Linked DNA regions of Homo sapiens: region 2 is linked to region 1. Evidence: fine-mapped expression QTL. A gene starts in region 1. The other region holds a variant in brackets. All regions are shown on one strand. Distances are from middle to middle.

Evidence for each region. PIP is the estimated chance that this variant, and not a neighbour inherited with it, causes the effect.
Region 2: its variant is fine-mapped to the expression of PPME1 in subcutaneous fat (GTEx, PIP above 0.99).

What each region holds. Positions count from the first base shown.
Region 1 is chr11:74,168,336-74,173,719 of GRCh38, reverse strand. PPME1 (protein phosphatase methylesterase 1) reads right to left here and starts at 2,431. Exons shown (of 14, transcript NM_016147.3): 1 at 2,198-2,431. The coding sequence starts at 2,298. C2CD3 (C2 domain containing 3 centriole elongation regulator) reads left to right here and starts at 2,718. Exons shown (of 33, transcript NM_001286577.2): 1 at 2,718-2,982; 2 at 5,107-5,376. The coding sequence starts at 2,928. RefSeq lists enhancers at 1,637-2,559, 2,337-2,786, 2,560-3,483.
Region 2 is chr11:74,102,145-74,107,528 of GRCh38, reverse strand. It overlaps C2CD3 (C2 domain containing 3 centriole elongation regulator), which reads left to right. Exons shown (of 33, transcript NM_001286577.2): 13 at 1,036-1,158; 14 at 3,904-4,398. Among named protein-coding and RNA genes, the nearest start is that of C2CD3, 66 kb to the left of the region's middle. The variant T/A (reference allele first, on the strand shown) is at 2,861.

The DNA.
Region 1 (5,384 bases):
AAATACAAAAATTAGCCGGGCGTGGTGGTGCATGCCTGTAATCCCAGCTACTTGGGAGGCTGAGGCACAAGAATCACTTGAGCCCGGGAGGTGGAAGTTGCAGTGAGCCGAGATTGTGCCACTGCACTCTAGCCTGGGCAACAGAGTGAGACTCTGTCTCTAAAAAAAAATAAAATGAAAAGTAATAAAAAATAAAAACGATAAATTACTAACAATTATACAATCTTCTAATCAGCAGATTTTCCTTTTTTTTTCTCTCAGTATCTTCATTCAGTTCTTCAATCTTCAGAGAACTTGTTTCTCCAAGATGAGAAGCTGAGCTCTAATTAAGCTTATCTAAGGAATGTATAATTATTAAAAATCTGATTTTCTTATGTATTTGTATAGAAGGGTGCTGGTATACTGAAAAATCAAATTTATTTTAAGAAAGGCAGCAACTAAGATATTTAACAACAATTAATGTTACATTAATATTAAACTCCAGGTTAGTTTTCCCAAATAATGTTATGGGTCAGTTTCCAAATTCTCTTTATTCATGTTATAGTCCAACTTTTCTGTCTTCCAAAGCCAAAACAATCTTCACTTTACCTTCTATGTAGCCTTCTACCTCTATTGTGCGTCTATCTCTCTATCTCCTCCTGCTAAAGTTTTCTCATTTTTCTACTGCGTATCATAGCAGGTCTCCACTCAATTCTTAGTTTCCTTCCCTGGTTTTTCCACCCATTTTTCCCATTCCTTTACCCCACTGTTTTATAGGATTCTCCTTTCTTTTCATCCCTAGGACTTACTGTCACAGTACTGCATCTCCTACTCTCGCCTCCTTTTTGATAAGTTTTTACACATATTACTTCTTCAGAACCTAAGGTTTCTCTTCTGTAGTCCTTTTTCAAAGAATATCTACCAATTCATCTCTAGAATCCCAAATATACTCTGGAGCCCTCATACCTAAGTATCTTTCCTACTCCTTTTCTCTTTACAGTCACTAATTCCCAGAATCCTGTTTGAAACTACAAATATCCCCTCAAAACCAAATGCCTATTCAATTCTCTCCACTTTCCAGCAATTACTTCTCCCATGTTCACCTCATTCTTTCTCCTCGGCCCAAGTATCCCCTAACCTGGCACAAGCCATTTAACGATCTAAAATTCCAAAACCTATCTCTTCTACATGGCTCTCCTTCCTTTCCAGCAAACTATTTCTCGAACTCCCAATGCTTCACTAATTCAAAGTCTTAGGCCAGTACGTCGCTTCCCTCAGATCTACTAGCCCAGCAAAAACTGATTGCCCAAATCTTCCTCTAAGCTTCCCAGACCTTACAACTGCAGCACTTCCATTCACCAAACCGTATTTATAGTCATCTCTCAATCTTTAGAGCCTATGGTCACTCTGTAAATTCTTCAGTTCTCTCCTTCTTCTCTCTCCCTTATCCTGTCCAGCTTCTCACTCTGTAAATTCTTCAGTCCTCTCCTTCTTCTCTCTCCCTTATCCTGTCCAGCTTCTCAGCACATTCCTACTACCCTTAACAATCTTCGTGGCTATGTTCTCCACCTTACCTTAGGCCTACTCCCTAAACTTTCTCATTCTCCCTTAAGAGACCTAATCTCACCTCTCATTCGCTGAATCTGTCTTTACACCTCTGGGAATTCTCTAGAATCGTCTGCTTCCTAGTTCTCCTCTTTCCTTCTCCAGCCCTGTCTCGAGTGTTTTCTACCCCCCTCAGCTTTTCTAGTATCTAGTTCTCACAGTGCAGATATTAGAACTCTGATAATATCTACTCCTCCCAAACCTTTCCTTAGTTGTTGGCCCAATTCCCCTCAACTTTTCTCTCAGTCATTCCCCACTTCCCTCCACCTTCCCTGGCCGATTCTCCTCCACCTTTGTCACCGTTCTACTCCCTTTTCTAAGCCTCCTTTATTGTGGAAGTGATTCTCAGATCCCTTATGTTAGTCTCTCAGCTTCCCCAACCTTTGCCTCATTCCCCTCTCCCTTCAACAACGTTATTTTTCCTCCAATTTCTATTGACTTGGCGCCTCCCCTAGTACCCCAATCTGCCTTCTACTCCATCTAAATATCTCCAGGCCGCCAACATTTTCTCCTATCAGTAGACTCCTTTCCCGTGCCTCTATGAACGCCCAGAGATACCATTCTCCAACGGCTGGGGCCTGGCCCATAGGGAGAAGGGGTATGGGTCACGTACCCCATTCGCATCTTGGCTCCGCTCTGACTGCCCCCGCTGCCGGGTAGAGGTGGGCGAGAGGGAAGGCGGCCGAGGTGCATGCTCTTTTCGAGGGCCGACATCGAGGGGAGGCTGCACGCACGTAGTCAAACAGTAGGCGAAGCTTCGTCCCACGTTGAGTGTGGCCCAACCGGTCACGACTCGCTCCCCTAACGACGCCCTGTCGCCTTTGGACAGCACCCAGCTACCCGTAGCACCGCCTACCGCCCACCGGCTCCGTAAACTCCACCCACTCGCTTCAGCGCTTCCACCGGAAGTGCGCAACAGCACTCATACAAAGGAAGCTGGGTAACAGAGTATGAGAACTCCGCAGACTCCCGGCTGGGAACCCGACGACTTTCACCGGAAGGAGGAGCGCTCTTCAGGGCAATGCACCCTGCGCAATGGAGTCCACAAAGGGCGCATCCCTATGCGCTTGCGCAGCTGGAGGCGCCCCCCAGCCAACCCCGGAGAGGTATTGTAGCAAAGCGTCCTGGGTATTGTAGTGTATTGGAGGGAAGGCGTCTTGGCGCCTTCTCTTCGCACCGTTTTCCGGAGACTGTTAGAGGAAGAGTCGCTTTTTCCTGCCTCCCAGGCTGCCCAGCGGCGCCGGTTGCCGGGGAACGCAGGCGCCGTGGGGAGGGATGGCGGGAGGATACTGCTTAGGTGCTGGAGACGGAGTTGAGCTGGTGAAGAAGAGCTCGGGCTCATCATGAAACAACGAAAAGGCCAAGGGTCTGGGGGCAGCCGTGGGCGCAAAAAAAGAGGTAACCTGAGCGATCAAAGATTGAGGAAAGCGTAATAGGAGAGCAGGGTGTAAGGAATTTTAGGGAGACCCGCACCCCCGCTGGATAAACAAGAAAAGGGACGTAAGAAGGAAGTAGCCAGGGAACCAGAAGGTTAAAAGGAAGGGCAATTGGCCCTCCAGAGAATAGAAAGGAATTAGGGGCTGGGGTAGGGGCCACAGACAGGCGATTAATGAGATGAAGGTTACCGGTAGGATGACTGTAGAGGAGAAGAACAAACAATGATGGGATTGGTTTTGATAACGAAGTGAAATGTATGTGTGTGTGTAGCTTTCGAGGTCCACAGGGACAGGAAGAAACATAAATTGGCAAAGGGATTATATCATTTGTTGTGTGATTGTGGGCAAGAATCACGTTTTATACATTACTGAATGACCAAGGATTAGTACAAAGCAGGACTCGGTAAATGTTAGTTGAATGAATGAAGTATGAAGGGCTGACTATGAGCAGGAGTTGGGAAAAATAATTGTAGAGTATAGAGCCGGGAAGAGTGGGGAATGACAGGTGTGATAGGATTGGAGTGGGGGTAAGGGCATGACGATCTCCTGAAGGACCTGAGATCATGAAAGAGTGTGCAGCAGAGAGTCCTCATCAGGTTAGCAGCTCAAGGAGACACAAGCTCACCGAGTAGGGGATGTTAGCTGCAGTGAGAACAGTCAACCTAGGAACCCAGGGCAGATCAGGAAACTTGACATTGAATCTCTACAAGACTGCCTCGAAGGGAAAAAGGACAGTGGGTGACCCTGCCTTTTTGCATTGTAGGCAGTTTAGCGAGAAAAGAAGTATTGGGAACAGTGATAGGACATTAGGCCATTGGGTTGAGGACTGAAGCTACAATCTGGGAATTACTCTTATCCAAGCTGTTTAAAGATTACTAAGGCAGTTTTGAGATACTGACTTTCCTGCCAGGAAAGATAGGAGGATCTGAGACTGAAGCATACTAGTGCTCCCTGTGTCAAAACAGTTAAGCATGTTTGGTTGATAATCGGAAAGTCAAAGTAGAAATAATATAACATAGCATAGAACAGAATACACTTTTTGCTATACCATTTCCATATGTAGAAATGTATACACAACTGTGTATAATTTTTATGTTGAAACTATCCATAAGGATTATGGTGGGTCTTTTCTCCACTATAGAGGGCAGAGGCGGTGTTTGCATTAGAAGTCCAAATAATTAGTCCTGATCTGATACATTCCATATATTTTCTTCTTTGAGGCATAACCACTCCTCAAAGAAAAGTCAAAGGAAAAAAAAGGTATAAATAATATAGGAATGGTTTCTTAAATCTCCTTTAAGTTTTCCCGAAAAGGTACTATGAATGAAAGACAATCAGGGTCATTAAAGGAAAATTTTTTAGAAAGTCATGATTAATTGCTTTGTTTACACTTTAATGTCTTTATGAAACCCAATAAATACTAAAGCCAATAAATATATGAACCCAGCACTGTGTTAAAAATAGTGGCAGAATCTGAAGATTAGATAGTCTGTGTCCTCACTGACTGTGTGATCTTGGCAGGAAAGAAAAGTTACAATTTAAGACGTTCTTCATTGAAATGCTGAGTTGTATGATATAGTCTAAATCGTTTGTGAGTGAAGGGAGTTGTTGCTGTTTTATCGTTAGTGATTTTTTTAAAAGAGAGTTAGATAAAGATTACATATCTTAAAAACCATAGATGTTGCAATAATTAAAACAACTGTACTTAGAAAAATTTCAACCATACTTAGAAAAATGTCAACTACTTCTGATATTTGTATTTTTCAAATAGTAACTCAACTAAAGAAAAGTTTATATTAGTGTGTCTTTGTTGGTATGTTCTTAACTTAGAGTAAATCAAATCAAACCTTAAATACTAATTAGTTATCAGAGTGGCTTACATGACCAGATAGATTATTCGGTGGTCTGATTTGATAGTTACTTCTCATGTATTAGAATAATGGGTAGGATAAACCTTCTTTCTAAGTGGTGATAAATTGCTGAACTTAAGACTAAAGTGTTCTGTTTGTTTTCATTCAAAAAGCATATTATATGTTTTCTATATTTAGTCTAAATTTTGACTCAGTTTTCTTGGATTCCTCTACAGGTTTAAGTGACATTTCTCCATCTACAAGCCTGCCACCTCTGGTTGAAGGCCAGCTACGCTGTTTTCTAAAACTTACTGTTAATAGAGTCATATGGAAGATTGCAAAGCCTCCCACTTGTGTACTTGTCCGAGTGAGATGGTGGGGAGAAACATCAGATGGAACCCTCTTTTGTCCCAGGGATGCATTGCAGACTGAACCAAAAGCTGTGAGAACAACTACACGTTACGCTATTCGTTGTGGTCCAAAACAGTTTACCTCTTATCTAACAGGTATGTTA
Region 2 (5,384 bases), 66 kb after region 1:
TTAGAAACTTTTAGTAAATGTCATTTTAATGGCTACATGTTATGCCATCATATGGATGTGCTATATAATTAGCTTAATAATTCCTGATTATTGGACAACTAGGTATATCTCATTGTTAACTACTTTTAACATATACATATTTGTGTATAAGCTTTTTATGCATTGTTTCTTATTTCTGTGTGTGTGTGTGTGTGTGTGTGTGTGTGACACAGTTTCATTCTTGTTGCCCAGGCTGGAGTGCAATGGCATGGTCTCAGCTTACTGCAACCTCAGCCTCCTGGGTTCGAGCGATTCTCCTGCCTCAGCCTCCTGAGTAGCTGGGATTACAGGCACCCGCCACCATGCCCAGCTAATTTTTTTGTATTTTTAGTAGAGACGGGGGTTTCACCATGTTGGCCAGGCTGGTCTTGAACTCCTGACCTGAGGTGATCTGCCTGCCTCAGCCTCCCAAAGTGCTGGGATTACAGGCATGGGCCACCGCGCCCAGCCTATTTATTATTTCTTTAGTACAAATTCCCAGAAATGGAATTACTGGGCCAAAGAGCATAAATATTTAAAGCTTTTAATATCTGTTACCAAATTTGCCATCCAAAAGCATATTGCCAGTTTATATTTCCAGCTTTACGCATATGACAGCCTCTTGTTTCTCCATAGCCTTGATAGCATTAGATATATTAAATTTTACAATTTCCCTAGTTTTAATAGCAAAAATTTGTGACATCTAAATTTTATTTTTTATTTTTAATAGTGAAGTTGAACATTTTGAGTAAGAATTAACTCTTAGTGATAGAAAAAGATAATCTTCCCACCACTTTGTGGCTTATAAAACCCTCTGTAATCTTATAGAGGGAAGTAGCAAAAGCCAGAAGAGAGACCAAAATATGACAAAGTGGGATCTCAGAGTTGTCTTAGATAATTAAGCTTTTTTCTTCCTGAATGGTTTCCTTTATAAGCCATCATATGTTGTCACTTTAATTAAGATCACCTGTGGCTTCTCTTTAATTAATCTAAATGTTCTCTTTCCTTCTTTCTCAGCCAGAAGTCATTGGATCTGTGTCACTTTCTTTGCGAGCTGTCATTCAATCAGAGCTGCTTTCTTTCAGTGATCAGCTTCCAGTGCAACAAGAAAATGGTCAGTCTCCATTTGGCCCCCTCAAGGTATGTAGATATACATTCAGGAAGTCAGAAGTATTTGCTGAGTATGCATTATTGGCTGGCACTGAGGATATAGCAGTGAACAAGAAAAGCAAGGTCTTTGATCTTGTGTAGCATCTCTTGAAATAGAGCAGTGGAAGTACTATGAAGGAAATAAATGGTATGATGTGATAGTGAGTACCTGTGAGAAAGTAGGAGATGGTGATCAGGGAGGATCTTTCTATGGAGGTGAAATAGAAGGTGAGATTTGAAGAATAAGAGGAGTAAGTAAAAAACACAGAGACCATTCCAGAGAGAATAACAGGTGCAACAGCCCTAAAGCAGGAGTGGGCTTGGAGTCATCAAGGGATAGAAAGTTGCCAGAGGATAGTGAGCAAGAGAGAGAGTGGTAGAAAGTAGGGTTGAACAGTCAGGTAGAAGCCATATCATCAGAGCTTTGTAGGTAAAGGTAAAGAGTTTAGATTTTAGCCTAAGATCCAAGGAAAGAATGTTGAAGCATGGGACTGACATCATCTGATTTCCATTTTACAAGATTACTGTGTGGAGAATAGACGGCAAGAGGAAAGAGGGAAATGGGCTGTGGCATTAGTCCAGAAAAGAGATGATTGATGGTGGCTTAGACTAGAGTAATTGAAATAAAGAAGGAGAGCAGTAACTAAGTGTGCCTGGTAGAATGAATTCTGGTATATAATTCATTGGAGAGAGGGTTATTTCCTTGTATTCAGGTGAGTTAGGATTTCTTAGATGACAGAATCTGAGCGTGTGGCTTCAGTATAGCTTTGTCCTGGTGAGTTTTAAAAATCAGCCGGGTGCAGTGGCTCAAGCCTGTAATCCCAGCACTTTGGGAAGCCAAGGCGGGCAGATTGCCGGAGCTCAGGAGTTCTAGACCAGCCTGGGCAACATGGCTAAACCACATGTCTACTAAAAATACAAAAATTAGCCAGGAGTGGTGGCACACGCCTGTAATCCCAGCTACTCGGGAGGCTGAGACACAAAAATCGTTTGAACCCAGGAGGCAGAGGTTGCAATGAGCCAAGGTTGCACCATTGCACTCCAGCCTGGGCGACAGAGCAAGACTCTGTCTCAAAAGAAAAAAAAAAATCATCACAGCCATGCCTAAAACATCCTGATGGCTCCCAATCACCCAAAGGATAAAGTACAAGGCTTAATATATGACCCTGGCCTACCATTTCAACCTTCTCTCTTACAGCTTCTCTACCAATAACTATGTCACTCTACGTAAAGAGTCAGTAAGGTATCATGCTGGTTCATGCCTCTGTGTTTTTGTTATTGATTATCATACTGCCTTTTCTTCTTGAAAGCCTTGTCTCTCTTCTTGGTCTTAGTAAATACCACTTTGCTTTAAAGACTTACACAATTATTATTGCAAAAAATTAACATCACCTACTCTTGCTATCCAAGTTATAGTTTTTGTCTGCCTGGTTCATTCTGAACTACAAAGTTTAAAATCAGAAAGGGGTTATAAATAGGATTGATCAACTAGAAATTTTTTCTGTTCTGGCTCTTTTGAGAGAAATACTATTCTGGATAGATTGCTGTCTATATTCAACAGAGTAAAAGAACCTTGCTATGTAACACTTAGGATTTCAGATCGAAGAAACAGCAAGAACCTTTTACCCCTAGTAATTGAGTCTCCTAACAGTTAGTGACCACTTCTGTTCTTTAAATTCATCATTTATCCTGC[T/A]TCCCTTTTCTTTTTTACTTTTTAATTATTTAGACTTTTTTATACCCTTTACTGAGACTCCCCAATTCTTACTATTTGTCACATTTTCTTTATAATTGTCTGTCTGCCTCTTCTCTGCCTCTCTCTCTCTGTCCCTTTATCTCCTCCCCCCATACATGTACATACACATTTTTTTGTGAACTATTTGAGAGTAAGTTGTACATCATGCCTCTTTCCCCCTAAATTCTTTAGTTTATATTTTATGTATTTCCTTAGAACAAGGACATCATCATGCATAATACTCTAGAGTTACAAAAGTCAGCATAGCATTGATACTATATCTGCAGGCTATACTGAGATTTCACCAATTATACCAGTGCCTTTATAGCAAATATTTTTTTCTAGTCCAGGATTATCTATTGCATTTTGTCAGATCTTCCTAATCTCCTTTAGTCAGGAACAGTTCTGCAGCCTTTCTTTATTTTTCAATATGCTGATATTTTTAAGTAATGCCAGTTATTTTAAAGAATGTTCCTCCACTGGGGTTAACCTGAATCACTTATTACTGTGATGATTGTCAAATGGTGATTTCTAACTCTACCGTCTCTTTTGCATTTATTAATTGGCATTCTATATAGAGAAGCTGTTTCTTCTCTCATATTTATTTTATATCAGGATGGATTCATGGATTCTTATTCAATAGTTTATAATCCATTACTGTTATTCATTCTGATGCTTAAGTTGTCCTAGATTTAGCCAGTGGGAGCCTCTTCAGCTGGATTCTGGGTCCTTTAAACATGGCTCCATTCTTTTCTGGGAACTATCTTATATTCTGGCATAACTTGATCTTCCAGGCTCATCTTTTGTTATTGATAAATCATCTGTCTAGTTTTTCTTAGTCTAGCAAGTTAATGTATATGCATTCTGTTAATATTCTTACTATTAGAGTGTTTGAGGATGAGTTAATTCATTTCCTAATAATCTGATGTTGTTTCCAGCCTCAAAATTCTAATTCCAATTCTAAAGGACATTCTTATTGACTCTTCTCCTTTTGTGTTTTACAGGTAACCATGGAGCTTATTACAGATAACAAAGATTTCACTGGTATCAATACTAAGTTAAGTGGCAACACCCATTATACCCCACTTTGTGCTCCTACAAGTCCAAATAAGGCACTACCAGAACTTAACCAAGATATGACCTGTACCAAAAATCCACAAAACTTAAACCAAATTCATGAGGAAACTGCAAAGAAAGCACAGAACTTGGTGCTCCCCAACCGAAAGTCACCAAGCCCTGTAGCACCACATCCTTCAACCTTCGTAGCTACGCCAGCCTCCCATAATTTAGTCAATCAGACAAATGGGACAACAAAAGAGAGTGCTTTGCTGTTGCATGTGCTGTTGATGGTGCCAGATGGGAAAGATTTTATTAGTGGAGAATCTGAGAAACAATCACCATGCAATGTTTATTTAAATTGTAAACTCTTCAGCACAGAGGAAGTCACCAGATCTGTCATCGCATGGGGCACAACACAACCGGTCTTTAACTTTTCTCAGGTAACTTTGTACATTCCATATCCATTAGAGGAATATAGGGGTGAGAGACAAATGCCTCCCAAATTATTATTTCGTCTTAAATCTAGAATGTTCAGACTAGAAGGAACCTTCGTAATTATCTGGTGTACAGATTCAGTCCCACTATTGGATGGGAAGAGGGAAAGGCATTGTCAACATTTTAAAACTGTTTGTCTTTATTTCTATTCTGTCTGAGTTCACATGGTTTCTCACTGTTTCTTTTGCCTGAGTTTTGGGATTCTATTCCTTTCTGCTTCCTCTAAGACTTTGATTAGTTAAACCTCCCCATCTTTCTCCAATCTCTCCTTCTTTATTACTTTATTTTATATATTTCTCCTCACATTTATTCTTCTGCCTACTTCAGTATTCATCTTAACTTGATTTTTCTGTGTAATGTGGTGCTTAAATTGTTTTCTTTCTTGGTTTTTGTAACTTTACTGTCTTAATTTCTTCCTCACTCAAAGCTGTTCTTTTTCAGTCATTGGGCCAGAAGGAAAACTAGGAAAAGGGTGGTAACCCCAGTACTTCTTCCTTTAACTGTTGGTGCTTCCACTCTTACTCTATTGCTGGCACTCTTCCAAATCAACCCACTTCTCCCCATGGTCATCACATCTATCAACACAGCTTCAGCACTCATTTTTATGAAGATAACTTCCATGTCTACATTTCTATATAAGCCAGACATTTCCTTTTAGTTTGAGATTTCTGTATCTAACTGCCTGCTGGTCATTATCACCTGGATATCTCAGAAGCAGTTTACACTTGGCACCTAACACATTGCCTGGCACATACTGGGTATTCAATAAAGATGTGTAAATGAAAGAATGAATTCAAACATGTTCAAATCTGAATTTATCACTTCTTCCAAATCTGTTCTTCCTCTTTTTGTCTGCCCTAATTCAAATTATAATTTACTCAGGCACCTAAGTAGAACCTGTTATTTGTCCTTGACTCTTTCTTATGTAATT